Linked DNA regions of Homo sapiens: all the other regions are reported to be linked to region 1. Evidence: microRNA targets listed by miRTarBase, many of them from high-throughput screens and not tested one by one. Region 1 holds a microRNA gene; each other region holds the end of a gene's coding sequence.

Region 1 (7,378 bases):
ACTGATTTGGGAAGCCACCTGAATGGAGGTAAATGAAATCAGCGATGGAGATAAGAAAGCGGATAAAATATTTGTTTATTTTAGAGTCAAAACAGAGGCTGAAAACTACAAGAACAGAACCGACATGGGAAAAGTCACCTGCCACGGGAAAGTAAGTTTTACTGAGAGGTTAAGCACCAAGAAAAGCCCAAACCAGTGGCTTTTTAACTAGAGGCAGCAGGGAATGAAGGATAAAGGTTTGGATAAAGCCCCATAGACGATTCTGGGACTAGTGCAAAAATGATTTCAACAGTGAACATGTGTGAGGAGGTGGAGATGGGAATGTACAGATTCTTCTTTCAAGTTTGATAGTGAAAAGGAGTGGGTGATAGGGTCAATAAGTAGATTTAAGATAAGAAAGACCAAGTAAATTTGTAGGCAACAAAGGAAAGGCCAATTAAGGAGATGGAAGCAAGCAGAAAGAGGAAGGTCTGTTTTGTGAAAGAAAGACAACAGCTTTCTCAAGGAAAGGATTCCAAGGAAGACAGAATTTAGGTGGAAGGGATAGATGTTTAAAAGAACTCTTTTTTTTGGAGACACGGTCTTGCTTTGTCACCCAGGCTGGAGTACAGTGGCACAATCATGGCTCACTGCAGCCTCAACCTCCCAGACTCAAGCGATCCTCTCACCTCAGCCTCCCAAAGTGCTGATAACAGGCCTTAACCACCACACCCAGCTGAAATAACTCATTTTGTATAGCCTTGATTTTCTCATAAAAGGAGGGACAAAGTCATCTATCAAGAATCAGGAGGTCGGCCAGCCGGGTGCGGTGGCTCACGTCTGTAATCCCAGCACTTTGGGAGGCTGAGGCGGGCGGATCAGGGACCATCCTGGGTAACACGGTAAAACCCCATCTCTACTAAAAATACAAAAAACTAGCGGGGCTTGGTGGCGGGTGCCTGTGGTCCCAGCTACTCAGGAGGCTGAGGCAGGAGAATGGCGTGAACCCAAGAGGCGGAGCCTGCAGTGAGCCAACATTGCACCACTGCACTCCAGCCTGGGCGACAGAGCGAGACTCTGTCTCAAAAAAAAAAAAAAAAAAAAAAAAAAAAAAAAAAAAGAATCAGGAGGTCAAGAGGTTGAATAATTGGGAAGACTGGAAAGCACGTCAAACAACTGCATCAACTCTTAATTACAAATAGTACATTTGTGAACATTAATTTGAATAAAAACAAGCAAAACATCTACTTATCATGAGCCATCCTTTGTCTGAAACCAGTTACCACTGGTTGCCACCTTATTTCACCTTTATTTCAGCAACACAAATGGCCTGCCCAACTGGAAGTGCAACTTTTTTTTTTTTTTTTTTTTTTTGAGACAGGGTCTTGCTCTGTCACCCAGGCTGGATGGAGTGCAGTGGCGCCACCTTGGCTCAATGCAGCCTCTGTCTCGCGGGTTCAAGCAATTCTCGTGCCTGAGCCTCCGAAGTAGTAGGAATTACAGGCGCACACCACCACTCCTGGCTAATTTTTGTATTTTTTGTAGAGACAGGGTTTCACCATGTTGCCTAGCCTGGTTTTGAACTCCTGCACTCAAGCAATCTGTCCTCCTCAGCCTTCCAAAGAGCTGGGATTACAGGCATTAAGCCACCACGCCTGGCCTGGAAGTGCAATTTCTAACAGGAGGCTCTCAGGCCATCTCCTGTCAGGGCTCCATACCAATCGAAACCATCCTGGGTTACTGTACATTTGCAAATGGATGCAGGAAAAAATACCCCAAGTGATTAAAATATTATCCAGGGGAAAACGTGTTTAACATTCAAAGAAAAGTTGAAAAATTAGAGAAAAAAGTAACTAGGGGCATTGGGGTGAAGAACAGAGAGAAGCAACCTGCATTACAATACAGAAAAAGGAGATAAACTTCTTGATTTTAAAAAAAGGACTTTCTTTTGCATTCTCATTAAGATCTTTAAATGGAACATTTTTACATAGGGGCCCACTGAAATGGGGGCCACATATATTGGAAGGCCTCATAAACACAAACAGTCCTTTATTAAGGGATATGTGAGATTTGGTATTCCTAAATGCCAAATCTAATTTTTACTACATAAGTTTTCACTGAATATCTTTAATCCACATTTTTTCTAGTTTTATATGTATATATAAAACTAGAAATATATATATCTAACTAGAAATAGATATACCTATAACTAGAAAAAATATATATACATATATATCTTTGAGACGGAGTCTCACTCTGTCGCCCAAGCTGGAGTGCAGTGGCGCGATCTCGGCTCATTGCAACCTCTGCCTCCTGGGTTCAAGCGATTCTCCTGCCTCAGCCTCCCGAGTAGCTGGGATTGCAGGTGTCCACCACCATACCTGGCTAATTTTTGTATTTTTAGTAGAGATGGGGTTTTGACACGTTGGCCTGGCTGGTTTCAAACTCCCGGCCTCAAGTGATCCGCCCGCCGCGGCCTCCCAAAGTGCTGGGATTACAGGTGTGAGCCACTGCACTGGGCCTAGTTATATTTTAACTGAGGTATCTCTGAACACCTACCTCTGCACCTCTATAACCTCAGTAAATCAAGAGTTGACTATTTAAGAGAAGATGAAGAATGCCAAGCAGTAGTGAGGAAGTAGCTTCAGTTCACTAATAAGCTCTCTCTAGCCTTCTATTCTCTGGGTAACCTCAGGGATAAAAGAACTATCTGCTTCTATAATACGTGGGTCTTACCTTTTGCTATGTCCAGGAAAGTATCTGATGTATTTGTTGTCATGCAAGGACAAGTAACGAATAGTATCTGTAAAAAGACAAACAAGGTATGATGATATCATACTATTTAAAAGAAATTTACTTTACATTTTCATCTTAAAAAGACAAGGTCAAATAATCCATTGTATTCTATATCCCAAGCAAGGCATGAATAAATAATGGTGAATAATTCTACTCTGCAGCTGAAGAGTGGGTATGTAGATTTCACCTAACTCAAAAGCAGAGTTCTTAAGTTGACAGCATAGAAAGCAATGTTTGAAATGACCTTTTATTACCAATTTGGTTTCTTCATAATTACAATGCAACTCCCACCCTGCAAATATACCCTGGTCAAAAAACAAAAACAAGTAAAGCACACATAATAATTTTAGATACTGGTCTAGTGTCCACAGAATGGCAAACCTTAAAGAAAAATATGTGGCTGTTGAGCTAACAGACTTAAAGAGGTGAGCAGCCATGGCAGTTAAACTGAAGATCAGGTTGAACCCTGGCAGCAATTTTTGTCTAGAGTTCTCCATCAGTATGTTGACCCACCCTCAACTCATTTGAACATTCTTCAATTGGACACACAAATTACAATGAAAATAAACAAAACGTCAGAGAAGTGATGTCAAGATCTGGGTTAAAAAGATCTTAAGACATTAAAAAAATCAAATTCTTATACCAATGAGTAATAGCAGTGAGATTTTGACAATATTAAAGAAAGGAACAATCAGAGATTTGTGCTTGTGGAAAAATAAGACACTCTTAACCAAATGATTCTATCTGAAAGAGTAAACAAACAAAAAACATGGTGGCGGTAGAGAAATGAAGTGCCATAAAGAATAAAACTGCAAAATAGAAAAGTATTATCCCCTTAAAAAGACTAGGAATAAGGAAAAATTGTTGAGAAACAGCTAAGGGAAAATGGTACCAAAATGCAGAAAGAAAACCATAGAAAGAACATTCTGAAGGCAAACAGAACATAGGAATAAAGGGGTTGAAAGCATCGAGTCATCCCAGGGGTTCACAGGGGTGCTTTCTAATAAGAGGGCATTTAACTTGGGAGGGGGAATAGGGGAATAGGGATATTTGTATATTCCATAACTTGAACACTACACAATTTTCCTTGAAAACATCTTCAAACTTCTTGAATGACAACTACGAAGTATTTCTAGTTATTCTACTGCTAACAATGACTCACCTGCCCTAAGAAGAAAAAGACTTCCTCCCCATTACCTGGTTTCCCAGAGATGAGCAGGGTGACGCCATCCTCTCAGCCCCACTTGGCAGCTGGCGCGCTGTTCCTGGCAAGGCAGTGGCCTGTACAGTTATCTCCTGTACCGGGTGGTATCATAGACCCTCAAACTGTACAAACTACTACCTCAGCCTGGAATCAGGCAAAAGGAAACGGAGCGCTGGAGGAACTCTTCAGGATGCACTTGAGACAGGAAAGGGAACATCCTCACAGCAGAGGCTTGGCAGCAAAGCTACAAGTGCCACACATTTGCCTCATCTTGCACCACATTTGGAGAATCCTCATTTAATCACTCAGAAAAACATCCCAACAGAAGAAATAAACCAGTCATTCGGATGATCACATAGACATGTTTCCTCAGGATCCTAAGGTTTTACATTCTTTTCCAAAATCATTAACTACACTGCTTCCTTAGAAAACCACTTCTGAAATACAGGCATGAAAAGTAGAAATGACATACTTAACTAAAAATCAATACAGGCAGAAGAGTCTCATTAAAAAAAAAAAAAAATGGAAAAAAGGACTTCCGCCCATTCTGCTCTGAGATAGGCACAGCCAAAATAGCAGTATAAGCTATCCTTGTGGAATGACATTAGAAAAATCTTTTTTGTTTTTTTGAGATGGAGCCTCGCTCTGTCACCCAGGTTGGAGTGCAGTGGTGTGATCACCCTAGACCTCCAGGGCTCAAGCAATCCTCCCACCTCAGCCTTACAAGTGGCTGGGACTACAGGCGCGTCCCATCACACCTGGCTAATTTTTGTATTTTTTGTAGAGACGGGGTTTTCCCAAGTTGCCCAGGCTAATCTCGAACTTCTGTGCTCAAGTGATCCACTCTCCTAGGCCTCCCTAAGTGCTGGGATTACAGGCATGAGCCACTATGTAGCCACCGGCCTAAAAAAAACCTTACTGCAAAATGTGAGATGATCATCAATAATCCACTGAAATAAGTTTAAAAACAGAATCCTGGCCGGGCGTGGTGGTTCACACCTGTAATCCCAGCACTTTGGGAGGATGAGGCAGGCAGATCACTTGAGGTCAGGAGTTCGAGACCAGCCTGACTAACATGGTGAAGTCCCAACTCTACTAAAAATACAAAAATTAGCCGGGCGTGTTGGTGGGCACCTGTAATACCAGCTACTTGGGAGGCTGAGGCAAGAGCATCGCTTGAACCCAGGAGGCTGAGATTGCAGTGAGCCGAGATTGCACCATTGCACTCCAGCCTGGGCAACAAGAGCAGGACTCTGTCTCAAAAGAATAAAGAATAGGCCGGGCACGGTGGCTTACAAGGTCAGGAGATCAAGACCCATCCTGGCTAACATGGTGAAACCCTGTCTCTACTAAAAATACAAAAAATTAGCCAGGCATGGTGGCATGCACCTGTAGTCCCAGCTACCTGGGAGGCTGAGGCAGGAGAATTACTTGAACCCGGGAGGCGGAGGTTGCAGCGAGCTGAGATCGCGCCACTGCACTCCAGCCTAGGCAACAGAGTGAGACTCTGTCTCAAAAAATAAAAACAGACAAACAAAAGAAAATAAACAAAATTAAAAAATTAAAGAATTCTAACATGAAAATAAGTGTTACAGTTCAGTTACCAAGACAATCTGTTAACTTAGGATTTATCTCGAGACATGCAGGCAAAAACAGAGATTGTTTATTATAGAAAGAAACTCACAAGTTCAATTTCTAAAAGTAACTCTACTCTTTAGATCAAAAAACGTTCCTGGAATCAGAAGTGACTAAGGTTGGGAAAACACCAAAACTGTTCTAACTTCCCTTAAACTATCATAGTTCAAGCATTTGTGAAACTTTTCTCAAATCTCTATCATTTTAAAAGAAAAAGTCCTGTTGTTTATCACTTGCTGTGTATCAAGTGTTCTTTCCTTTTATTTGTTCTAAAAGTGTTCTTTTTGGAGATGGAGTCTCACTCTGTCGCCCAGGCTGGAGTGCAATGGCGTGATCTTGGCTCACCACAACCTCTGCCTCCCGGGTTCAAGAGATTCTCCTGCCTCAGCCTCCTGTGTAGCTGGGATTATAGGCGTGCACCACTGTGCCCAGCTAACTTCTGTATTTTTAGTAGAGACAAGGTTTCACCATATCGGCCAGGCTGGTCTTGAACTCCTGACCTCAGTGATCCGCCCACCTCAGCCTCCCAAAGGTTGGGATTATAGGCGCGAGCCCCTACGCCCGGCTTTAAAAGCGTTCTTTTAAGTGTCAGGAAGTACAAATCATAAACACAATTAGTTGTTTCCTTTTTCCACTCCCCACTCTGAATTGAAGACTTTTCATACTCAGTCCCAAGTCCTTCAAAAGTGCCAATGGCTTGCTTCCAGCATTCCTTCAGTCAAAACAATGCAATTAACATTACTAACATTATATGAAAATACTTAAACTAAAGTAGTCACAAAGCAGAAGTAGTCACAAAGATTCCATGAACTATTTAACAAAGGAAACCATGACCTTAACTTCCTAAAAAGGCTTGCTTACCGTCTATTTTGTTAGAGCTGTAAACAACTGTGTTTGCTGCATGAGTGTATCTGATGAGGTCCACACCATATTTCTTACTGTACAGGGTTCTCTTTGGTCTGATAAGAAAATAGAGACAGAAAATCATGAACATTCTCCATCATCAAAATCTGGGATCTCCACATAAAGAGAAGCACTTGAATGATGTGGCAAAGGTGAGGATTTTTGGTAAGTTCTAACACTGGAAAGAAACAACTTCTTCCAAAAGGGAAAAAACAACGCTCAAGCAACAGCCATCTGAAGAAGCTTTCCACCTTAGAACACCTAGTGGCAAGGTTAGGTGGGAAGTAAAAGTAAATCTGGGGATTCAATTCAGTCTTTACTACAATGTTCAAAAGCTTTGAGAAAAAATACAATCATGTGCCATGTGATGACATTTTTATCAACAACAGACAGCACATAGGGTAATGGTCTCATAAGATTATAATAGAGCTGCCCTCTACAACCGATGTTTCATTTTTTAAATCCCTTAAACTGTTTTACGGCACCTTTTCTATGTTTAGATACACAAACACTTAACGCTATATTATAATTGCCTACAGTATTCAGTACTGTAAAATGCTGTACAGGTTTGTAGCCTAGGAGCAATGGGCCATACCAAACAGCCTAGGTGTGTGCAGATTATACCGTCAGGTTTGTGTAAGTACACTCTATGATGCTGCTGCAACAAAAACTCACGTGATGATCCCCATCTAAGTGATGCATGGCTGTACATCTACTTGGGAAGAAAGGCACACAAAACAAGTCTTAACTTACAACAAAGAGGGATATGAGAATATGTCAAACCCAAGAGGCCAAACTTTTCTTCTCAAGACATCCATTTAGAAAGAAGCTCTGTGTTTTTTTTTTTCAAGACGGCAGTGA
Region 2 (7,378 bases), not on the chromosome of region 1:
TCATTTTGTAGATAAGAAAACTGAGGTTGAGAAATGTTCAGTAACTTGTGAAGAAAACTGAGATTGGGAAATGTTCAGTAACTTGTGCAGGGACTCCTGGCCCTTGTATTGTTCTGTTCCCTGCACTAAAAGTAGAAGGTATTAAATAAACAAAGGGAAGAGAAGGGCACAACTTCCCTGAGATGCTGGGCAAGTCCCTCTCCTTTGTGAGCCTCAGTTTCTCCTTCTGTAAATGAGGGACATGCTTGGATGGTGGGTAAAGACCTTTGAGGTCTCAGTGTTATGGGGTGTGTTCACATTTCAGTGAACATAAGCCTTTCAGGACTCCTCTAAAGTCCGATGCTTTCCATTGTCTATTTTGTGGGGATAAATGTGCATTTCTGTTTGTTTTAATAACATTTGTAGGAGCTTTATATAGTGTCTACGTCTGCTTACATTAGATGCTGTGTATTATAGTTAAGAGTCTTTCACGATTTCCCATATAAACCTAGTTTTTTATGAGTTTGGGAGAGCTCAGCTGTAAAAACTCTCTCAGCTGAAAAAATTTTGTTTCTAACAAATCAGGTTTAAATCAGGAGGCTGGTTTCAGACACTTCAGAACGTGCATATTTTTTCTCTTCAGTCACTCTTCATTTAAAAATGAGATTGGCTGATTTCTTAGTTTCGTTTCTTTTGTGAAGATTTAGCAAGACTATAAGGTTAACCAATGGTTGCATAGACAGAAGGTATCCAGTGCCTTTTCCGTAAGAACCCTGGGTTTGAGGCGCACCTTCTAATCCGGGCTCAGCCTTTGACTGGCTGTGTGACCCTGAACTGGTCACATCAACTCTCTTGGGTTTGCCTTTCCCACATCTGTCCATGGGGAGCATCATTCCTGCCTTGGCTGTCTTCCAGATTATGGGGAGGAAAATGCACTTATAAAAGTGGAAGTACCCGGGTAAGGTAAATGTGCCAGGCAAACACCAGAGACTACTGCAAAGAATAACGTGCTGAATTCCTCACCAGGAGAAAGTAGATTCCTGGAATCAGAATGTTACTAACAGGAAACCACCTTGGAGCCTACCCTTTTCCTCATTTTCTAGATGGGATCCACTCAGAGCCCTGACAGGGGAAGAGGGTTCCAGGAGAATGCTGGAATTTGAATCCCAGATCCTTTCACGTAACTCCTTCCTTCTTTTTTTCTCTACCTTACTTTGGGGACTAAGGAAGATCAGACTGAGAGAAACTGTATTTGGGCACATATGTATGTATACACACACACACACACACACACACACACACCTGGAGGTGCTCCGAGATGTGGGGGAAACAGGTCTCTGGAGGTAGCCATGTTTGCACTTTGATACAAGTCCTATCTGCCATCCATGTGACCTTGGACAAAATCCTTCACCTCTCTACGCCTCAGCTCCCTCAATATTGACCTCACGGAACCCTGTGAGGCTTATATGAAATAATGCATGCTGAGTTTAAATACTTTTCTTTATAAATGTTAGCTGTTACTATTCCATTCATCAATAGACTTTAAATGTAAGAAAAAAAGACTATTTGCTGTGTACGAGGAATAATAAACTCTTCAGGACAAATATTTTCTGTTGTATGTTAATTGATCGTTATTAGGATCTTTTCATTATATTTATGCCCACAGTGCCTAGCACATGGTGGGCACACAATAAATGTATGTTAAATAAATGGTGTATTGAAAGTATGCTGGCAACAGAGGAAATTGCAGCTTAATTTTTATTGCAAAAGTAATACTTATTCATTATAAGACATTTAAGAAAAATATGGCTAAGCAAGAGGAAAAGTCAAAATTACCCTTATTCCCACAAGTCAGAGGTAAAGGTGTGAAAGTTTTGATGTATATTCTTCCAATTTTTCTCCACGAATAATATTTTTTTATTTTTACATGAAAAGGGTCACAATGGACAGTGTTTGGTGTAATATGGGAGGAGGTTTTCTCACTTAATATATCGTGAACAATTTCCATGTCAATTCCCACATTTTTTCTAATGGCTGAATAGTAACCCACTTGTACTGATGGCTTTATTGAGCCAGTTCTGTAATTATAGGACATCAGGTTCTTTCTCGTGTTTCACTCTTTAATAGAATAGTCCTATAGTTAACGTTTTGTAACATCAATATTTCCTTGCAGTAAACTCCTGGAATTTACTTTTAAGTTGGTAACCATTCCATTTTTCCCATTTTTTAAAAAAGATGTATTTAATTCAAAAATAATAAATAATGACCCTGCTTCTGCCACAGCTGATTTGAGGTGTCTGACAAACCTCGTTGAAACCTGGGCAGAGAAGAAGAAACTAAACGTTAGACTCTAAAGATGTTTTCAAAGAAGGGAGGGCTAAGGAGGGGTGGGAGCCTGGAGAGCCAGGGTGGCAGCGAGAAGGGCTGGACCCCTAGTCTGCAGACCCTCAGCACAGAATGGTTTGTGAAACCTGGGGCAGCTCCGAGCCGTTCTCTGTGCTCGGCTTTTCCAGCTGTGCGGTGGGAGCTGGGGATGTGGCGTGGGCGTGGGAGGCCGCTGGAGTCAGGCGTGGGGAGAGTGGGGGACTATCCAGTGACCCTCTCAATGGGCGCCGGCTCCGTCTCGGCTCCCGGGTTCAGGGACTGCACGTTTCTGAGACCGAGTTTAGGGCTCCAAGGCTCTCTTCCCAAAGAGGGTTTGGGGCCAGCAGGATTGGGTTTTCTGAAGAGGCCTGGTTATGCCAGACTTGGCTTTGGCGGCCGCTGGCGGGTCTCCCTCAGCACCCCCTCTTCTTTCCCCGGCTATAAGAAAGCTAGACCAGGGTGCGCATTCTTCCCGTGCCTAGGATACTTCACGGTGCTAAAAATAGTCCTGGGAGCTGGGACCTGTGTATAGCCAGAGGTTTGTGTGTGAGCGAAGTTGGAGTCCTGGGTTCGAATCTAGATAAGCTTCCCTCCGTGCTGTGGGGCTTAGATCACCTCCCTCCCTGAGTCTGTTTCTCCATGCGCGCCGGAATTTCTAAACGGACTCCCAGAAAGAAACGGAAAGAAAGAAGGTAAAGAAAAGAAAAACAAAACAACAAGAAAGAAACTTTGATTTTTCTCTCTGCTCCTCCCCAAGGGCCCTGGGGCCTCGGGCCGGGTACTGAGGCCGAGGAAGGGGTGCGTCGGACAGGCTCATTACCGCCAAGTGTTGCCCTAGTTAAATCGCGGGCCTGTTTGATCTGGCGGCGGGTGGCGAGAGGGAAAAAAGAAAAAAGTAGGGGGGCGAGAGTAGAGAGAGAAGCTCACACCTCCCCCACTGTTTCCTAGCGCCCATAAAACACCTTTTATTAACTCCTTCGCGTCCGGAAAGGCCCGCGTGGCCTCTCGGCCCCTGCTACGGTGTTTACAGCCAAGACTAATGGGGTCCCATATTCACCCCGACGCTGGGACAAGGCGCCTGGGGCACGCCTGGTGCCCCACGAGGCCCTGCCCCGGAGCTGCCTGAGGTCTCCTTTCTTGTTCCCAAGCCGAGCGCTCAGGCTCCAGGTGCGCAGAGCGAAAGTTCCAAGACAGCCTCACGGGTCTCCCCTCCTCCTTCGCAGTGAGCGCCGCAGACCCTCAGGCGCTGCAGAGCGTGCGCTCCGTGGGGCAACCATGGGAGCTGTTGGGAGACACAGAAGTGCTTAGCGCAGTGCCTAGCACACAGTTGCACGCAACCAAAGTATTCGTACATTATTATTCCTGGAAGTATAAACCACTGCGTTTGCCCGCCCCAGTTTAGCCCAATACGCATCCAAGATCCTTGGCAAATGCACCGAATTTATACCCACCACACCTAGTCATGGGTGCGCATGAGAGAACACAAAGACTGGCTCTCCTGCACAAGTGCCCGAATGAGCACGCATACACACATACACCCCATCCCTTTGCACAAATCCATATGCTCTCACAACCTTCTGTCGAGTGCTTCGTTGCTAAAGAGAAACCTAAATACCTCAATTTAACATATAAGCACTCACAAGCTTATTTTACTCAGGTATAAAATAATAATAGCTGCTGTGACTTGTCAAGTCCTTACTGTGTGCTTGGAGCTGTACTAAGCAGACCCTTGTTGGCCCCTGCACAGCCTCAGGCTCCGTATGAGTTGCTGCACTGTCACATGTACATCTATATGTTGAGAATTTCACATACATGAACATATTCCCCACCAACACCCCCTCTCCTGAGCTACCCTGCCCCAGGGATAGGATTCACCTGTGTGCTAGGCCCCCTTCCCTCCCAATAAACACTCCAAACCACTCTTTGCAGACACCAGTGGGCATACTAACCTCCAGACAAGCACGAATACTCAACGCACAAAAACCCGAGCCCAGGCCCTCTGAGACTAATTCGTTTCCGTTTTTGTTCTTCCCCGTTCCCATAAGTTACCCCCACCTCCCGTTCTAGTCTAAAGAGAACTTTGCTCTTGTTCTTGAAATACATTCTTTATCTGCCGGCTTCCCTTGATTTCAAGTTTGGTTTCGTGTTTATCAAAAGAAGAGGAGCAGGAACAGAGGCTTTCCACCTAGCAGAAGCCATGGGAGTCGGTGAGGGACCCCGGTTGAGACATGACACAGGCTTCAGATGATTTCAGAAAATGTTTTATTAATCAAGAGCATAGACACTGCTTTGGCGAAGGGAGGGGGGCTGTGAGTGGTCACACAGACTTGAGGTAGAAAAGGGTTGGGGATGGCAGGATGAACAAACACCTGAGCACAACAGGCATGGTAGGTAGTTTAAATACATAAAAACTTTCCAACACAGGGAAAGCTTTTATTTAGATAGAAACAAAAAGGAAGGAAAAGAAGGAAGAAAAGAGAGAGACAGAGAAAGAGAGAAAGTGTTTCCCTTGGAACTAAACAGGAAGTGCAGCGACAAAAAGAAAAATAAAATAAAACCACCACGATTCGAAGAACAAAGGGCAGCCTTTCATCTTCCTGCGTCTGGTTCTCTTTCTCAGGCAGAAAAGAATTGATTCCTTATTGCATTTTAATTAGAGAAGACGGCGTCGGGGCGGATCATATGGAGGGACAAGAGAGAAAGAGCCAGATAGGGAAATGGAGATAGGGCTGAGGTTCTAAATTCGCTCCAAAAGGGTGGAAGAGTGCGTCTTTGAGCCCTTGGGTTCGACAGTCCCTCCTTCTTGCATGTTGCCGCCAAGGGCCGCCCTCGGTTGGGCTGGGGGTGGATATATATATATTTCTCTTTCTCTTAATGTATTAAAAAAAATCAAAGGACATTGCACGTGCGATCCAAGTGTGTGGTTGCAGCCGACGACCTGCCGGCGCTCAGCAGAAGCTCCGCGGGATGCGTAGCACCAGTCGCCGGAGCCCAGAGCCTGGCGTTCGCCGCTGCCTTCCTCTCCTCCCGGGGCTTCAGGAGTGGCTGGCCTGGCCAGGTCCTCGGCGCGGGCCTCGGCTCACTGGTTTAACTCCAGCGCCCAGACTTGCTGCGGCCAGCCGGTGCGTCCTTTAATCCTCTTCTCGACTGGGCCCAGGGCAGGAGGAAAACCTTCGTGCTGCTGCTGCCAAAGGACACACAGAAGAAAAGAGGCGGGAGAGACAGGTTTTAATTTTTCTGCTCCGATCGCCCGGCATGGGGTAAGATGAGGAGGAGGGGAAGGTGTCGGGAGCAGTAACTGGGAGTCTTTAAATAAGTGACGGATTTCTGTTTGCGAAATAGGCAAACAGGCTCGTAAATTTGCCTTTATGCGCGGAGTTCCTGGGACCCGGGATGGGCTGGGCAGCTTCGGGAGGTTTGGTAAGGAAAATGTTCTGCGTCTGGTGAAACTGACGCGCGTTGATTTGGCTTTAGGACACCTAAGGGAGATCCCAGGATATTGGAAGGGAGGGGTGGAAATCCACGGTTCTCCCGCTCTCGCTGCACCCCACACACTTCCGCCAGCCTCCCAACCTGGTTTAAACATCAGGGCTTGGATGCAGGCTTGGGGCCCCCTAAGCCGGAGCTGGGAGCCTCAGATACGGAGGTAAAAGAGCGGGGAGTCGAGCTGGCCTAGCGTCCTCCTTCCCGCTCTTTCAGCAGGAACCAAGCGGTGCTACTTGAAGGAGGCGGCGACGCGTGGGGGCCGGGATCCGCCCAATAACAACTTCTTTCGAGGCGCCGCACCTCGAAAGAAGCCGGCCTGCACCATCCCCAGTCCGGGGCAGCCGTTTAGAGACTCGATGCCTATTTATCTTTCCCTCGTCCCTGGATGAGCTTTCGTCAGTTTACCACAGGCCCCCGCAGGTTGGATAAACCAGGTGGGGCGCTTCAGCTGGCTCCACTCCGCTACGGCCTTAAGCCCCCCAACCTAGAGAAACTGATTGGCCAGCCTGAAAACCCAGCGCTCAGAAGCCCCCAGCCCCGGACAGCCAGACCGAGTGCCAGGAAGTGTCACCCTAACCGGAGAGGATCAAGAAGGCCAAGACGAGACTGCGCTCTCCAAAGCTAAAAGAAGTGGCTCTTATTTACATGCAAAGCCACTGAAGTCGTCCTCAGAACCAGTCCATGGGGAGAACCAGAACTGGCCCTGGACTGAGTAGAAGACCCGATCTGTTTTACCTCACCTCCACCCTGGACTCCTCAGATAGGTGCTTTTCCTGCCCCGACCCACTCTGGGCCCTCAGTTTCCCTATTTATACAATGATGGAAGTAGACTAGCCGGTCCAGCAAAGGCCCTTTGAAAACAGGAACCGAGCCCGGGCACATAAATTCAAACTCAAAGTAAAGAACTTTAACACATATTCTTAACCTGGCTTCCAGGAGAGCCCAGGAATGAATCAGGACTTCTCCAAATTGGAAGCAAAACCTGTGGTGTGTGCATTTTTGGAGGGTCCGAGGCTCCAAACAGATTATTCACTCAGTATTACAAACACTCTCCCGTATTACAAATGAATTCTATGACGAATCTGCCTCCCTCCATGCACAGGATCGCACGCTGTGACCAACCATCTCAGAACTCTTCCCAACCTTTCCAAATCGGACACAGGACAACACAGCCTCCTTCGACTACCTGCATGGCCTGAGGCTGCTCACCGCTCCTGCACCCTTGGCTGGAGCATGCAAGCCCCAGGACTCACCAGCTCCCTTTTCCGCTTGCTCTCACGGCCGCCATCCGCCTTCTTGAGTTCAGCCTTGAAGGCCTCGGGATCGCCAGACTGTGCATCCTTGGCCAGCACGTCCATCAGGTAGGCGATGTAGCTGGTGGCTAGGCGCAGAGTCTTGATCTTGGAGAGCTTGGTGTCGGCCGGCACGTTGGGGATGCACTCGCGCAACTCCGCGAATGCGCTGTTAATGCTCTCAGTGCGTCTCCGCTCCTTCTTGGGTCCTGAGCCTTTCCGCCGGCCAAGACGGCCGCCAAGCGCCTCCAGCCGCC
Region 3 (7,378 bases), not on the chromosome of region 1:
GATTGACTTCGGATCCGCCAGCATTTTCAGCGAGGTGCGCTACGTGAAGGAGCCATACATCCAGTCGCGCTTCTACCGGGCCCCTGAGATCCTGCTGGGGCTGCCCTTCTGCGAGAAGGTGGACGTGTGGTCCCTGGGCTGCGTCATGGCTGAGCTGCACCTGGGCTGGCCTCTCTACCCCGGCAACAACGAGTACGACCAGGTGCGCTACATCTGCGAAACCCAGGGCCTGCCCAAGCCACACCTGTTGCACGCCGCCTGCAAGGCCCACCACTTCTTCAAGCGCAACCCCCACCCTGACGCTGCCAACCCCTGGCAGCTCAAGTCCTCGGCTGACTACCTGGCCGAGACGAAGGTAAGGGAAAAGTTGGGTGAGGGCAGTCAGTGTGGGGGCTGTTACATGAAAAAAAATTCTAGGGTGGGCAACGTGGCTCACACCTGTAATTCCAGCACTTTGGGAGGCTGTGGTGGGAGGATCCCTTGAGCCTAGGGGTTTGAGACCAGCCTGGGGAACATAGTGAGACCTCCTCTTTATAAAACATGGAAAAAAAAATCAGCTGGGCACGGTGGTATGGGCCTATTGTCCCAGATACATGGGAGGCTGAGGCAGGAGAATTCCTTGAGCCTGGGAGGTCCAGGCTACAGTGAACTATGATCATGCCACTACACTTGAGCCTGGGTGACAGAGCAAGACTCTGTTTCAAAAAGAAAAATCTATCAGACCAGAAGAATGGAGTGAAAAGAACAAAAAACAGAGGCTGGGTGTGGTGGCTTACGCCTGTAATCCCAGCACTTTGGGAGTCCGAGGTGGGTGGATCACGAGGTCAGGAGTTCAAGACCAGCCTGGCCAAGATGATGAAACCCAGTCTCTACTAAAAACACAAAAAATTAGCTGGGCGCAGTGGCAGACGCCTGTAATTCCAGCTACTCGGCGGGCTGAGGCAGGAGAATCGCTTGAACCCAGAGGGCGGAGGTTGCAGTGAGCCGAGATCCCACCACTGCACTCCAGCCTGGGCAACAGAGTGAGACTCCGTCTCAAAAAAAAAAAAAAAAAAAGAAAGAAAAGAAAAATATTTTTTTCTTTTTTTTTTAAGACGGAGTCTTGATCTGTTGCTCAGGCTGGAGTGCAGTGGTGCGGTCTCAGCTCACTGCAACCTCTGCCTCCCAGGTTCAAGAGATTCTCCTGCCTCAGCCTCCTGAGTAGCTGGGCTTACAGGCACCCACCATCACACCCGGCAATTTTTTTGTATTTTTACTAGAGACGGGGTTTTACCATGTTGGCCAGGCTGGTCTCAGACACCCGACCTCGTGATCCACCCACCTCGACCTCCCAAAGCAGTGAGATTACAGGCATGAGCCACCGCGCTCGGCCAAAAAAATATTTTTTTAATAATTGAAAAAAAAAATTTCTGGGCTAAACCTCAATGAGGACTGGAACTTGGGGGTCAGCCTAGGGCATTTTCACAGCAAGAAAGAGCTGCATGAGATCAAATGTGGGACTGGTCAGCAACTGCAGCAAGATAGATCTGGGGGAGAAACTGCAGGGAGAATTAGATGTTTGGAAGTCAGATGTGGGGGCTGCTCTAGCAAGAGAGATCTGGGTCATACTATAAGTGTGACAGGACGATTGGGGCAGCTTCTCTGCCAGCTTCAGCTCCGGGGTCAGCAACTTGTGTGGCAAGAGGGATTAGACCACAGAGAATATATGAGGTCTGAGATTGGCTATGAGAATTGCGAGAGAGGCCAGGTGCAGTGGCTTATGCCTGTAGTCCACGCACTTTGGTGGGGGCCAAGGCAGGAGGATCACTTGAAGTCATTGTGGGCGACATAGCAAGACCGTGTCTCTAGAAAAAATTTTTTTTAAAATTTAGCCAGGCATGGTGGCACACACCGGTAGTTCCAAGCTACTTGGGAGGCTGAGGTGGGAAGATCACTTGAACCCAGGAGTTGGCAGTTGCAGTGAGCTATGATTGCACCACTACACCCCAGTCTGGGCGACACAGCAAGACCCTGTTTAAAAAAAAGGATCTAAGGCCAGGCACAGTGGCTCACACCTGTAATCCCAGCACTTTGGGAGGCCGAGGTGGGTGGATCACCTGAGGTCAGGAGTTCGAGAACAGCCTGGCCAACATGGTGAAACCCCATCTCTACTAAAAATACAAAAATTAGCTGGGCATGGTGGTGGACACCTGTAATTCCAGCTGCTCAGGAGGCTGAGGCAGGAGAATCGCTTGAACCTGGGAGGTGGAGGTTGCAGTGAGCCGAGATTGTACCACTGCACTCCAGCCTGGGCAACAAGAGTGAAACTCTGTCTCACACACATACAAAAAAAAAAAAAAAAAAAAAAAAAAAAGGATCTGAGTGAGACCTCAGGTGAGTCTAGAGGTTTGGGGCAGCAGCCAGTCTGCTACCTCTGTGGCTTTGCCCCTCCCATCTGTGCAGCAAGAGCCTGGGTTAGACAGCAGAGGGGACTAGGAGTTTGAGGTCATAGGTCTTGATTTCACAGCAAGAAGGGTCTGGATGGGACCACAGGTGAGACTAAAAGTCAATGGCAGTTTAATAGCAGGGGGTGACAAACTACTATAGCAAGAAGGGTCTGGGTTTGACCACCAGGAGGCCTGGGATCAAGTGTGGAGCTGTGGCAGTAAGAGGGACCTGGATTTGATTCCAGGGAGGACTAGAGATTCCGGGCAGCCCTTCTGCTAGCTGCTGGTAGGGGCTGCACCCATGGTGCTGAAGGGGACTGGAGGTCTGGGGCAAGGGGTGGAACTTGGGCCAGTGATTTGGGTTCGATTAGAGGGGCTTGGGTGTGACGGATCCAGGGTGGCCCTCCTAGCAGCCAGAGAGCTCCAAGGCAGATCATGGGCAGACCTGGAAGTCGGGGCTACATGTGGGTGCCACAGCAGGAGTGCCCAGGGCCCTAGCCCTGCACAATGGTCAACCCTGCCCCCTTCTCCATGCCCCGCCAGGTGCGCCCATTGGAGCGCCGCAAGTATATGCTCAAGTCGTTGGACCAGATTGAGACAGTGAATGGTGGCAGTGTGGCCAGTCGGCTAACCTTCCCTGACCGGGAGGCGCTGGCGGAGCACGCCGACCTCAAGAGCATGGTGGAGCTGATCAAGCGCATGCTGACCTGGGAGTCACACGAACGCATCAGCCCCAGTGCTGCCCTGCGCCACCCCTTCGTGTCCATGCAGCAGCTGCGCAGTGCCCACGAGACCACCCACTACTACCAGCTCTCGCTGCGCAGCTACCGCCTCTCGCTGCAAGTGGAGGGGAAGCCCCCCACGCCCGTCGTGGCCGCAGAAGATGGGACCCCCTACTACTGTCTGGCTGAGGAGAAGGAGGCTGCGGGTATGGGCAGTGTGGCCGGCAGCAGCCCCTTCTTCCGAGAGGAGAAGGCACCAGGTATGCAAAGAGCCATCGACCAGCTGGATGACCTGAGTCTGCAGGAGGCTGGGCATGGGCTGTGGGGTGAGACCTGCACCAATGCGGTCTCCGACATGATGGTCCCCCTCAAGGCAGCCATCACTGGCCACCATGTGCCCGACTCGGGCCCTGAGCCCATCCTGGCCTTCTACAGCAGCCGCCTGGCAGGCCGCCACAAGGCCCGCAAGCCACCTGCGGGTTCCAAGTCCGACTCCAACTTCAGCAACCTCATTCGGCTGAGCCAGGTCTCGCCTGAGGATGACAGGCCCTGCCGGGGCAGCAGCTGGGAGGAAGGAGAGCATCTCGGGGCCTCTGCTGAGCCACTGGCCATCCTGCAGCGAGATGAGGATGGGCCCAACATTGACAACATGACCATGGAAGCTGAGGTGAGCCGGGTGCGTTCAGGATACGATTAGGGTGGGAGGAGGCTCAGCACACACTCACCCGTGCTCAGGATATGATTAGTGTGTGAGGAGGCTCAACACACACTCACCCATGTTCAGGATACAATTAGGGACTTAGGAGGCTCAGCACACACCTAATACCGTCAAGATATGATAAGGCTCAGCACTTACTCAGCTACTTCCAGGCTGTGACAAAAACTCAGGGCACAGTAATCTACTTATAAGAAGCTTGATAAAGAGCCTGGGCAACATAGTGAGATCCCGTCTGCACCAAAAAATTAGAAATATTAGCTGGTTTTGGTGGCATGCACCTGTAGTCCCAGCTACTCAGGAGGCTGAGGTGGGAGGATCACTTGAGCCAGGGAGGTCGAGGCTGCAGTGAGCTGTCATCACATCACTACAAAGGGGCAATAAAGGCCCAGCACTGGTAAGACCCTAGCACATGCTCACCCTCATCAGGAGGAGGTGACAGAGGCTCAGCAGACACTAATACACTAACACTGCTTGGCTGATGCCCCTCTCTCTTCCCCCACAGAGGCCAGACCCTGAGCTCTTCGACCCCAGCAGCTGTCCTGGAGAATGGCTGAGTGAGCCAGACTGCACCCTGGAGAGCGTCAGGGGCCCACGGGCTCAGGGGCTCCCACCCCGCCGCTCCCACCAGCATGGTCCACCCCGGGGGGCCACCAGCTTCCTCCAGCATGTCACCGGGCACCACTGATGGTGATTCCACCCCTGCCCATCACTGGGGGCTGCGCTAGCTGGGCTGGCATTCCCTCCCAACCTGAACTGCTCCTCAGAGCCATCTCCTGAACCCACAAATTATTCTTACAGAAAGATAGTTATCCAGAAATTCTCATTCCCCGTCTGCGGTGCGGTGCGTGCCTGCACACCTCTCCTAAACACAGCAGGGCTTTGGAGTCTGGCCCATGCTCCTTGGCCAGAAGGACAGCAGGAAAGGGGGCTGCACCCCGCTGGCCCTGCGCTCGCCCTTGGCCCTGCTGCCTCTGTCTATTTCAATATAGAACTGTTCAGCAGTCCTGCTTCAAGCCTGCTCTCACTGCCTGGGGCTTGGACTGGCCCTGGGGGGAATGGGGGCTCCAGGCTGGCACCCAGTGACTTGCTCTGCGATGCTGGGCCCAGTTGACCACTGGCTTAGGCGGGAGCCTGGGCTGCTGTCACACTAGGAGGGAAAAGCTGTGCTTGGTTGACTAACCCTTGTCCTAAATACGCTATGTGCTTGGCGTGTTGGGAATCCACCCTCAGAACATGCTGTGTTCAGTATGTGTTAATCAAGTTTGCCGGATGCTGGGGTCTCCTTGTCTGTTGACCTGTCCTTCCTACATGTTTACAGGGTTGGCATGCACTCACCCACATTTGGGACGTGCTGGGTGTAAATCCACTTGGCAGGCCTAAATTCACACTTGGTGCACACTCTGGTGCTCAGCCATGCTTGTTCACCCTTGGGATGTGGCAATGGTTTGGTCCCTGCTGATCAATCTGGGAACATGCTTCTCTGCAGCACATACCCATGCTGGCTACATGAGTGCTAAGTCCATGCCGGGCCACAGGGTGGCACGCTGCATGCTCAGCACAGGTCAGCCCATGTACACTACATGTTAAGGGCTCAGCACATGCCAACCCATGCCAGCACATGCTGAGGGCTCAGTACATGCTAACCCACACTGGTCACACACTGAGGGCTCAGCACATGCCAGTGACATGTTGAGGGCTCAGCACAAAAAGATGTCCCCACCAGAGGCCCATGCCAGCTGTCCCCTACCCCTGCACCCCATCTCACACCACTCAGTCAGGCACAGGCTGTACAGACAAGTTATTTACTTATTATAACCCTGGGCCCTTTTTGCCCTGGAAAGTGGGGGTGGGCCAGGGGGCCAGGCCCAGCATGCACCCCCATTTCTTTGGGGGCTGATCCCTCCCCCAGCTCTGCTGGGTCCCGGGGCCACAGCGTCAGGCCGGTGGGGGTGGAGGTAGAGGTGGGAGAGCAGGGGAGAGAGCCTGAGGAGCCACAATGGGGCAGACAGAAGCGGGGGCGCGGGGACAGGGACCGTGACCCAGAGCACCTGGGTCCGCGGGGGCCCAGCAGGCCTTGGCCTGCCCACTGGATCGGGCCTCAGAGCAGGCGGCAGGCGTTGCCCACGCTGTCAGCTGAGGTGTCAAGGTCATGGCTGTAAGGGGAGTCCCAGTCCCTCAGGAAAATGGCCTCCAGCTGGCTCCGCAGGCCGCCCCTCCCATTCTGCGTCACCAGCAGCGAGGTGCCCGCCGTCTCCGTGAAGTAGTTGCCAGACCAGTTGGAGGTTCCTAGAGAGGAATGGGTGGAGCATAAGGGCACCCTCGGGGGGCCGCCCCTGGTGTCTGAACCCCCTCTTCTTCAGCGCCCCGTGGTGCTCAAGACACTCACCGATGTAGGTGGCGCGTTCAGTCACCATGTACTTGTTGTGGTTGACACGGGCATATGGGATTCGAGCCTGGGCCTCATCCGCGGGGACCACAAAGAGTTTCTGAGTGGGAGGGGAGGATGGGAAGGAGTGTGAGAGGCAGGGGGAGTCGGAGGAGCCCCGGGATCAGGGAGCAGAGTGTGGAGCGAGATCTGTGGGACTCCACTGCTTCCCACAGAATCCTCGGGGGCCAGAACAGGGCCAGGTGGAGGGGCCCTCTGAGAACGAAAGCTGAAAGGGAGGCCCCGGTGGTCTCATTTGCAAAACACTGTTCCCGGCAGAATGGCTCCTGTTCATTCCTGAGGTCTCATCTCAGATGCCCCCATTTCCAGAACATCTTCCTTGGCCCTTCCCGCTAGGGCAGAGGCTTCCTCTGGGCATCCCCACCCCAGCCCTGACCCCTCTGCCTGTGCCCCCCGACCCTGGCCCTGACCCCTCTGCCTGGGCCTCCTCCATCCCAGCCCTGACCCCTCTGCCTGTGCCCCCCCATCCCAGCCCTGACCCCTCTGCCTGTACCTCCTCCATCCCAGCCCTGACCCCTCTGCCTGTGCCCCCAACCCCAGCCCCGACCCCTCTACCTGCCCACTCCCCCAGTCCTGGTCCCAAACCCTCTCTCTGTGCCCCCCACCCCAGCCCTCACCCCTCTGCCTGGGCCTCCTCCATCCTGGCCCCGACCCCTCTGCCTGTGCCCCCAACCCTGGCCCTAACCCCTCTCTCTGTGCCCTCCAACCCGGCCCCGACCCTTCTGCCTGTGCCTCCCCATCCCAGCCCTGACCCCTCTGCCTGTGCTCCCAATCCCAGCCCTGACCCCTCTACCTGCCCATGTCCCCATTCCTGGTCCCAACACCTCTCTCTGCACCCCCATCCCGGTCCCAACCCCTCTGCCTGTGCCCCCTCATCCCGGTCCTGGCCCCTCTCCCTGTGCCCCATGACCCTGGCCCTGACCCATGGTTTCCCCACAGTGACAGGGCTCACTCTGGGCTGCCCTTGTCATTGACAGACGAGTCCCATGAGGGCTGTGTCCCTAGGACTGCCCCACACAGGGGCCAAGGGGTGGCTTGGGGCAGTACTTACCACCTGGATGTCAGA
Region 4 (7,378 bases), not on the chromosome of region 1:
ACATATCTCCCAGAGAGTCTGACACCCAACACTTTACTCCTAAATGCCTCGCCTTTTCCATCCTGGGAAGAAGCACCGGGCAAGGTGGCTTACGCCTGTAATCCCAGCACTTTGGGAGGCCGAGGCAGGAGGATCACAAGGTCAGGAGATCGAGATCATCCTGGCTAACACAGCAAAACCCTGTCTCTACTAAAAATACAAAAAATTAGCCGGTCGTGGTGGCAGGCGCCTGTAGTCCCAGCTACTTGGGAGGCTGAGGCAGGAGAATGGCATGAACCTGGGAGGCGGAGCTTGCAGCAAGCCGAGATGGCGCCACTGCACTCCAGCCTGGGCGACAGAGCGAGAGTCCACCTCAAAAAAAGAAAAAAAAAAGAAGAAACACTTTCTCCTATATAACCACAATGACAGGATTCCACAGGAGAAAATTTTCAGTCATTCCCTAAGACTTAGTCTTTCCTCTGTTTCCACAGTTGTCCAGACAACGTCTTTGGTGGATAGCATTTTTTTTTTCTTTTTGTTTTTTGTTTTTTTTTTTTTTGAGACCGGATCTTGCTCTGTTGCCCAGGCTGAAGTGCAATGGCGCAGTCTTCGCCTCCTGGGTTCAGCCTCCCAAGTAGCTGGGACTATAGGCACGTGCCACCACGCCCGGCTAATTCTTGTAGTTTTAGTAGAGATGGGGTTTCACCATGTTGGCCAGGCTGGTCTCGAACTCCTGACCTCAAGTGATCCACCCGCCTCGGCCTCCCAAAGTGCTGGGATTACAGGCGTGAGCCACCACTCCCAGCCAAGGTGCCACACTTTTAAATAGCCAGATCTCGTGAGGACTTACTGTCACGAGAACAGTACCAAGAGGATGAGGCTAAACCATTCATGAGGAATCCACCCTCATAATCCAGTCATCTTGCACCAGGCCCCACCTCCAATACTTGAGATTACAATTGGAGGATTTGGGCAGGAACACAAAGCCAAACTATTTCACTGGCCAGCGACCAGAGAAGGCTCCTGGTTGGGGGACATCTGGGTTAAGCCTTCAAGAGGGATGGCCAGTGGGAGGCCAGGCACGGTGGCTCACGCCTGTAATTCCAGCACTTTGGGATGTGGAGGTGGGTGGATCATTTGAGTACAGCAGTTCGATACCAGCCTGGCCAACATGGTGAAACCCCATCTCTACTAAAAATACAAAAAAATTAGCTGGGCATGGTGGTACACGCCTATAATCCCAGCTATTTGGGAGGCTGAGGCACGAGGATTGCTTGAACTCAGGAGGTGGAGGTTGTAGTGAAGTGAGCTCACGCCAGTGCACTCCAGCCTGGGCGATGGAGCGAGACTCCATCTCAAAAAAAATAAAAGGGATAGCAGATGGGAATTCTCTAGGAGGATGGTGGGTGCAGGGTAGGCATTGCCCACAGAGGGTAGAGGCTGAAGAGCCACACAGGCAAGGGTAGCCAGGTTACACAGAGGCTAAGGACGGTCTCTCCTGTTCTAGATGAGTGTGGCATCGTGGCCCAGATCTCAGAGCCCTTGGCTGCTGCAGACATCCCAGCCTACTACATCAGTACTTTCAAGTTTGATCATGCACTTGTGAGTGTCCAGCGCCAGACCCCTCCAGGGCAGGGCCGGGGTGGGGAAGCAGGTTCCTGGGCTCACGGGCAGGCATCTGCCTCCTCTACCCCTGCACAGGTCCCCGAAGAGAACATCAATGGTGTCATCAGTGCCCTGAAGGTCAGCCAAGCAGAGAAGCACTAGAAGGGTCTCTTCTGCTCCTCCCTGCCGCCGCCCGGGCCCAGCCCTAACCCTGAAGATTGATCTTGCAGTATTTCTCTACAGACTGGAAAATCAGCCTGGGGACCCTGAGGAAGGGGCCTCTGTGGGAGACTCCCTCGATTGCCAATCCCTCCAGGGCAGGGGCCCACGCCAAGGCCTCTCCATGCCCTCCTGCCTTCCCGGAGCCCCCCGACCCTCCAGAGAACGACCTTTCTCTTCCCTACCTCCCCCACCCCGGAAAATGCTTTCGGAGGCCCAGGGAGCTTGTGAGCTGATCCGCCTTCTCATCCGGCCTCACCCACGGCCAGGGGCAGATGCCGAGGGAAGCCGGTCCCTCCTGCGAGACACCGGTGTGCCAGCTGTCATGTCACCTTGCAGGGCTGGGGCTGGCGGGGTGGGGCCGAGTTTGGGGTGCCCTGGAGGGTTTGGGGGTGAGTACTGTGGTCACTGGTCTCTGCTTCCATCAGCTCAGGGCTGGTTCCCTCGGAGTGGAGGCCAGCGTGGCCCCCTCAGGTCATCGGGGCTGGTGAGGCTCAGACAGGAACCCAGGTGGGATCCCCGAGCTGGGAAGGACCCAGACTCCCCCTGTACCTCGCCTGCCAACCACAGGGCCTGGGCCCGACTCCCAGCAAGACTGCCAAGAGGGCCCTGTCCAGACCCTCCCCCACAAGCACTCAGTCCTTGGGGGAGGAGGGAGGGTCCCAGGAGACCCACCAGCCTGGAGCACCAGCTCCTGTCCCCTCGGCTCTCCCTGGACCCGACTTGGGCAGGTAGAGCCTCAGCTTCCCCCAGTAGGGACATCCCTGGCTTTCCAGGCCTGAGGTTTCTTAGGTGGTGTCCCACCTCCCCAACAGACAACTAGACCAGCATAGGACTCCCCGCCGTCCTCCTCCCTCCTCTGCCCCCAAGTCACCTGCCTGCCCACCCGCCCCTTGGCTGGGGGCTGTGGCATTCATGAGTACTTGACCCAGGAGGCAGCTTAACTGAGCCTTAATAGAGAAAACCATACTTTGTTTTAGTTTTTTATTTAATGTATTTGCACCCAGGGTGCTCTTGGCGGTAGTTTCTGTTTGGCAGGGATAGGACCTGTTTGAGTTCTGTCAAGGGAGCCTGGAGGCTCTGTGTCACTAAGCTGGTGCTCTGTGGCTCCAGGGACAGGCAGTGGGAATCGGGAGATGTCACAGGAGCCTGGGCCCTCTCTTCTGAAGGGAAGCTAGGAGCAGAGATCTGTTACAAGACGCTGGAGCCGCTGGCACCCCACATGGGAACTCCCACCAACCAGCTGTAGTTCTATCTGAGCACCGGAGGGGGTGAGGGAACCCGAGGGCCATGGGGAGGTGGACAGCCAGGTGGCAGGCCAGCTGAGTGGTCATGTCCAGGAGGCATGGGGTTAGCCGTGGTGTCCCTTCCAGTGGGGTGGTTTTCTGAATGAGCAGGACCAAGGGCCCCTGTGGTTTTGGCTCTGGCGGGGGTTTTTTTTTTTTTTTTTGAGATGGGAGTCTGGCTCTGTTGCCTAGGCTGGAATGCAGTGGCACGATCTTGGCTCACTACACCCTCCTCCTCCCAGGTTCAAGTGATTCTCCTGCCTCGGCCTCCCAAGTAGCTGGGATTACAGGCACGCACCACCACGTCTGGCTAGTTATTGTATTTTTTAATAGAGACGGGATTTCGTAACATTGCTCAGGCTGGTCTTGAACTCCTGAGTTAAGTGATCCGCCTGCCTCGGCCTCCCAAAATGCCGGGATTACAGGCGTGAGCCACCACACCCAGCCGAGTTGTGCTGTTTCTGTGGTCAGAGGAGAAGGGATATTTTCTAGTCCTGACAAAGTGTTCCCTGCTTCTCTGAGTGGGACCCTCTGAGCCCTGGAAGCCCACCAGAAGGAGAAGCTGTTCTTTAAAATCCTTGTGGGTGTTGAAGGCCCACCACATTAATTAGAAACCAACTTTTTTTTTTTTAAGTTAATTTGTTTTGCACAAAACTCCAGAACAAAACTCGTACATTGCTGGTCCCAAAAGGGAGGTGGCCAAGTGGGGCAGGGCTGTGGTGGAAGCCCTGAGTCCCCTTTCTGACCTTGCAAGGCCTTGATTTTCCTTTCTGTCATTTCCCCCTGACGGTGTCACTTCTCTGCCTTTCCTTCCCGCCGTGCAAGTGTGTCGGCCCCGTGACCCCAGAGTCGTGTGTCCCCTAGACTTCCTAGGACGTATCTATTGTACACACCTATAAATACCTGTGTTTTATGTTGATAGAGATATATACTGTAAATAGCATATATACTTGAGCAATATATATGTTAATATATACTGTGTGCGCAGTCCGTGGACACAGCCCCCCGCTGTGTGTGCACACGTGTATGGGCGTGATGGCCTCCACCCCGCACCGTCTGCCATACACGCGGGCACATTTGAGCCACCATATATTTTTAATTCAAGTATATAGGCAATACGATTATTACAGAAGCCGATGGGTTCCCTCAGACCTGACTTGAGAGAACAAAGCCAGCAGCTCAAAGAGCCTGTGACATGGGACGTGGGAAGGGTGCTGAGAGCCCGCTGTGGCGTGGGTCATGCCTTCTGCACCCCACTTTCCCCAGGCAAGATCCCTGGGCGCCCTTATTTGGGGGGATGTTGATCCCGAGGGAGGAGTATTTGGAATTTCTTGCTTTTAACCAGAATGCCCCCTCTCCCCTGCCCTCGCCAGCAGCCTCACCCTGAAGACCTGGGCCTGCTGAATGGGCCACACGCTGCCTGTGTCCTGCCTCCGTGGGTGGCACTTTTTACGCAGGCAGCTTCTCTGTTTTTTTTGTTTTTTGTAACCTGCAAGCTTAGAAATCTCAGGTTGTGCTCCTGGGGCTGCTCCTGGGGACTGGCCTCGTGTCATGGAGAAAAGCATGTGTGTCGGGGCGCGCTGGGGCCAGGGTATGGCTCTCCGCCCTGGCTGGCTCTGCAGGGGTGGTCCCTGTTCAAGCCCGCTCCGTGGGAGCTGCCCCCTGGGGACCCTGCTCCTCGGTCACAGGGGGCCCCTTTAGTTTTCCCATCCCCATCCTGCTCGTGTAAAGCTTGGTTTATCTTCTCGGCGTTCTGTGTGTAGCGTAGTCTTGGTTTGGTCTCCACAGCTCTTCGGGGTGGGGTGTGAGTGTGGTTTTTCCCAGGCAGGGGCCGTCTGCCCTTGTCCCCCAGCTATCTCCTGGTCTGCTGGGTGGGAGGGTCTCTCCAGGCCCCAGACCCCACTTGGAGGGGCATGTGTTTCTCAGAGGGGCTCCATCCGCAGTTGCATGGAACTCCTTACCTGTTTGCCGTCCATCCCCCGGAGGTAATCAGAGGAGTGGGCCTGTTGTCTTGGCGCTGGCGGATGGGGCAGGTGCCTGGCGGGGGAGGAAGAGGGCTCTCTATGATGTGGAATTTTTTTTTTTTTTTTTTTGAGACGGAGTCTTGCTCTGTCGCCCAGGCTGGAGTGCTGTGGCATGATCTCAGCTCACTGCAGCAACCTCCACTTCCTGGGTTCAAGCGAGTCTCCTACATTGGCCTCCCAAGTAGGTGAGATTACAGGCACTCACCACCACACGCGGCTAATTTTTGTATTTTTGGTAGAGACGGGGTTTCACCATGTTGGCCACGCTGGTCTTGAACTCCTGACCTCAAGTGATCCACCCACCTTGGCCTCCCGAAGTGCTGGGATTACAGGCATGAGCCACCGTGCCCGGCCTCATGGAATTTCTAGGGGTGAGCAGGTGACCCTGGGGCTGCCACTTGAGCTCCTGGAGTGTGTGTCTTGGCCCCTGTGTGGTTCTCCATTAAGAAAAGCTCAGATAGTCTCAACCCCACCCTCTCCCCTTGCTGCACTCAGAGTACCAGTGGGAGCTGAAGGATGGGGAGGAACAGAGCAGTGACCACCCCTCCCTGCCACTGATAAGTTCTGCCTCGTCGTGGGGCTCCCCTGGTTCCCAAGACACCCCTTCCTCCCTCAGCCCGTCGTCCTAACCCAGCAAAGATCTGGGCATTGCTGACTCTGCACCTCCTTCCTCCATGGGCATCTCCAGGACCGCCCTCCTTCAAGGGGCACTGCCCACACCACTGTCCTCAGCCCGAGGCATGCATCTGAGCTGGAGAGGCTTGCAGGCCTGACCCTGGTAGCTTCCCCTCCCCAAGATTCAGAGGCGGGGACCCAAAGCCTCACTCCAAACCACTGGCATTCTCACCTCCTCTCACCTCCAGGCACCAGGCTGCTGGTGGGAAAGGAAGGAGCTGGGGGATCAGAGGCTTCCAGTGTGGCCTCCGGAAGCAGCAGCGTAGCCAGGGTGACATTTGTTCAGCAGGAGGAGGCTTGGTCTGGAGGGGCTTGCCCCTCTGAGGTGACAGAGGATGCCCTGGAGGTCAGGAGAGAAGACTGGGAAGACAGGAAGGGCCAGGCCCCTGTTAAAGCCCAGGGCACTATTTGGTGATCTTCAAAGGTGAACACAGGCCACCTCCCACTGGCCCCCTCCTCCTGGCCACATTTTCCAGGGATACCCTGGGGAGTCCTAAGGCCACCCTGGGCCCCTTTCTGAGCCTAGAGATCTGGATGTGGTGACAACCAGGGCTTTTCCCAGCCCCAGCTAAGAGAGGGGGCTTTAGGGCAAGAGCACCTCAGCCCTGCAATGGGGGGATCTTTTTTTTTTTTTTTTTTTGAGACAGGCTGGAGTGCAGTGGTGCGATCTCGGTTCGCTGCAACCTCTGCTTCCCAGGTTCAAGTGATTCTCCTGCCTCAGCCTCCCAAGTAGCTGGGATTACAGGCACCCACCACCACGCTCGGCTAATTTTTGTATTTTTAGTAGAGACAGGGTTTCACTATGTTGGCCAGGCTGTTCTTGAACTCCTGACCTCAGGTGATCCGCCCACCTTGGCCTCCCAAAGTGCTGGGATTACAGGCATGAGATACCCCGCCTGGCCAATGGGATTTTTGACGCCACTTCCTGAGTGAAGCGCTTTGCATGGGGATGGGAAGAAGCACCCCCAACCTTCTAGTCCGCTCCGAGCAGGGCCTGGAGCATTGGAGACATTGGTTAGTGTAATAGGCAGAGCCTGAGTGAGGCCGGGGGGCTTCTCCAACAGAGAAAAGACATTGGCTTTGGGTACCATGCTGAGGGAGGGGGTTAGGCCTGGTGGGGGCCCATTCAAAGGAGGCCGGGCTCGGTGGCTTAGGCCTGTCATCCCAGCACTTTGGGAGACCAAGGTGGGAGGATAGCTTGAGGCCAAGATAGCAAGACCAACCTGGTCAACATAGCAAGACCCTGCCTCTACAAGAAAATAACGAAAGAGGCCCCAGGGAAGGAAGCCAGCCAGGAGCAGCCTGGAGCAGAGGCAGGAGCCTGAGGCCTGAGCCATGGCATCCAGGGACAGCCTGGTGGCCGAGAGAGCTTGTGGCTGTCACTATAAGGGAAGAGGAGCTATGGAAATTGGAAGTGCAGGGTGGCCTGTGTGCTAGGAGTGGGGGTGCAGGCCTAGGTGTGTTTATGCACACGTTTGTGCATGTACCTGTGAGCGTGGATGTGTTCCTATGCATTAGAGTGTGTGCGTGCACGTGTGCAGAGCCCACACCTGAGATATGGGACTGGCTCTTGGAGTATTTTGAGTTCTC

What was found. The annotated mature microRNA hsa-let-7g-5p reads UGAGGUAGUAGUUUGUACAGUU and lies in region 1 at 4,100-4,121, opposite strand. An mRNA with a match to its seed (bases 2 to 7 or 8) in the 3' UTR can be bound and repressed. Matches are read on the target gene's strand: a 7mer-m8 pairs with bases 2 to 8, a 7mer-A1 pairs with bases 2 to 7 and ends in A, and an 8mer does both.
Region 2: miRTarBase lists HAND1 as a target of hsa-let-7g-5p. Seed matches in the 3' UTR shown: 8mer at 4,672-4,679.
Region 3: miRTarBase lists PLD3 as a target of hsa-let-7g-5p. Seed matches in the 3' UTR shown: 7mer-m8 at 5,819-5,825.
Region 4: the mRNA of CASTOR2 is a reported target of hsa-let-7g-5p. Seed matches in the 3' UTR shown: 7mer-m8 at 1,985-1,991.

What each region holds. Positions count from the first base shown.
Region 1 is chr3:52,264,237-52,271,614 of GRCh38, forward strand. It overlaps MIRLET7G (microRNA let-7g), which reads right to left and starts at 4,125; the gene lies at 4,042-4,125. WDR82 (WD repeat domain 82) reads right to left here. Exons shown (of 9, transcript NM_025222.4): 2 at 6,476-6,573; 3 at 2,716-2,782.
Region 2 is chr5:154,470,384-154,477,761 of GRCh38, forward strand. It overlaps HAND1 (heart and neural crest derivatives expressed 1), which reads right to left. Exons shown (of 2, transcript NM_004821.3): 1 at 7,083-7,378; 2 at 4,589-5,527. The coding sequence ends at 5,423. Among named protein-coding and RNA genes, the nearest start is that of HAND1, 4.2 kb to the right of the region's middle. RefSeq lists enhancers at 2,050-3,021, 3,022-3,993, 5,664-6,518 and a silencer at 5,322-5,509.
Region 3 is chr19:40,376,760-40,384,137 of GRCh38, reverse strand. It overlaps PLD3 (phospholipase D family member 3), which reads right to left. Exons shown (of 13, transcript NM_012268.4): 11 at 7,364-7,378; 12 at 6,253-6,352; 13 at 5,653-6,152. The coding sequence ends at 5,965. HIPK4 (homeodomain interacting protein kinase 4) reads left to right here. Exons shown (of 4, transcript NM_144685.5): 2 at 1-355; 3 at 2,970-3,815; 4 at 4,369-4,867. The coding sequence ends at 4,551. Among named protein-coding and RNA genes, the nearest start is that of HIPK4, 9.7 kb to the left of the region's middle.
Region 4 is chr7:75,022,954-75,030,331 of GRCh38, forward strand. It overlaps CASTOR2 (cytosolic arginine sensor for mTORC1 subunit 2), which reads left to right. Exons shown (of 9, transcript NM_001145064.3): 8 at 1,487-1,581; 9 at 1,681-7,378. The coding sequence ends at 1,746. It also overlaps a transcript of RCC1L not described here. Among named protein-coding and RNA genes, the nearest start is that of RCC1L, 47 kb to the right of the region's middle.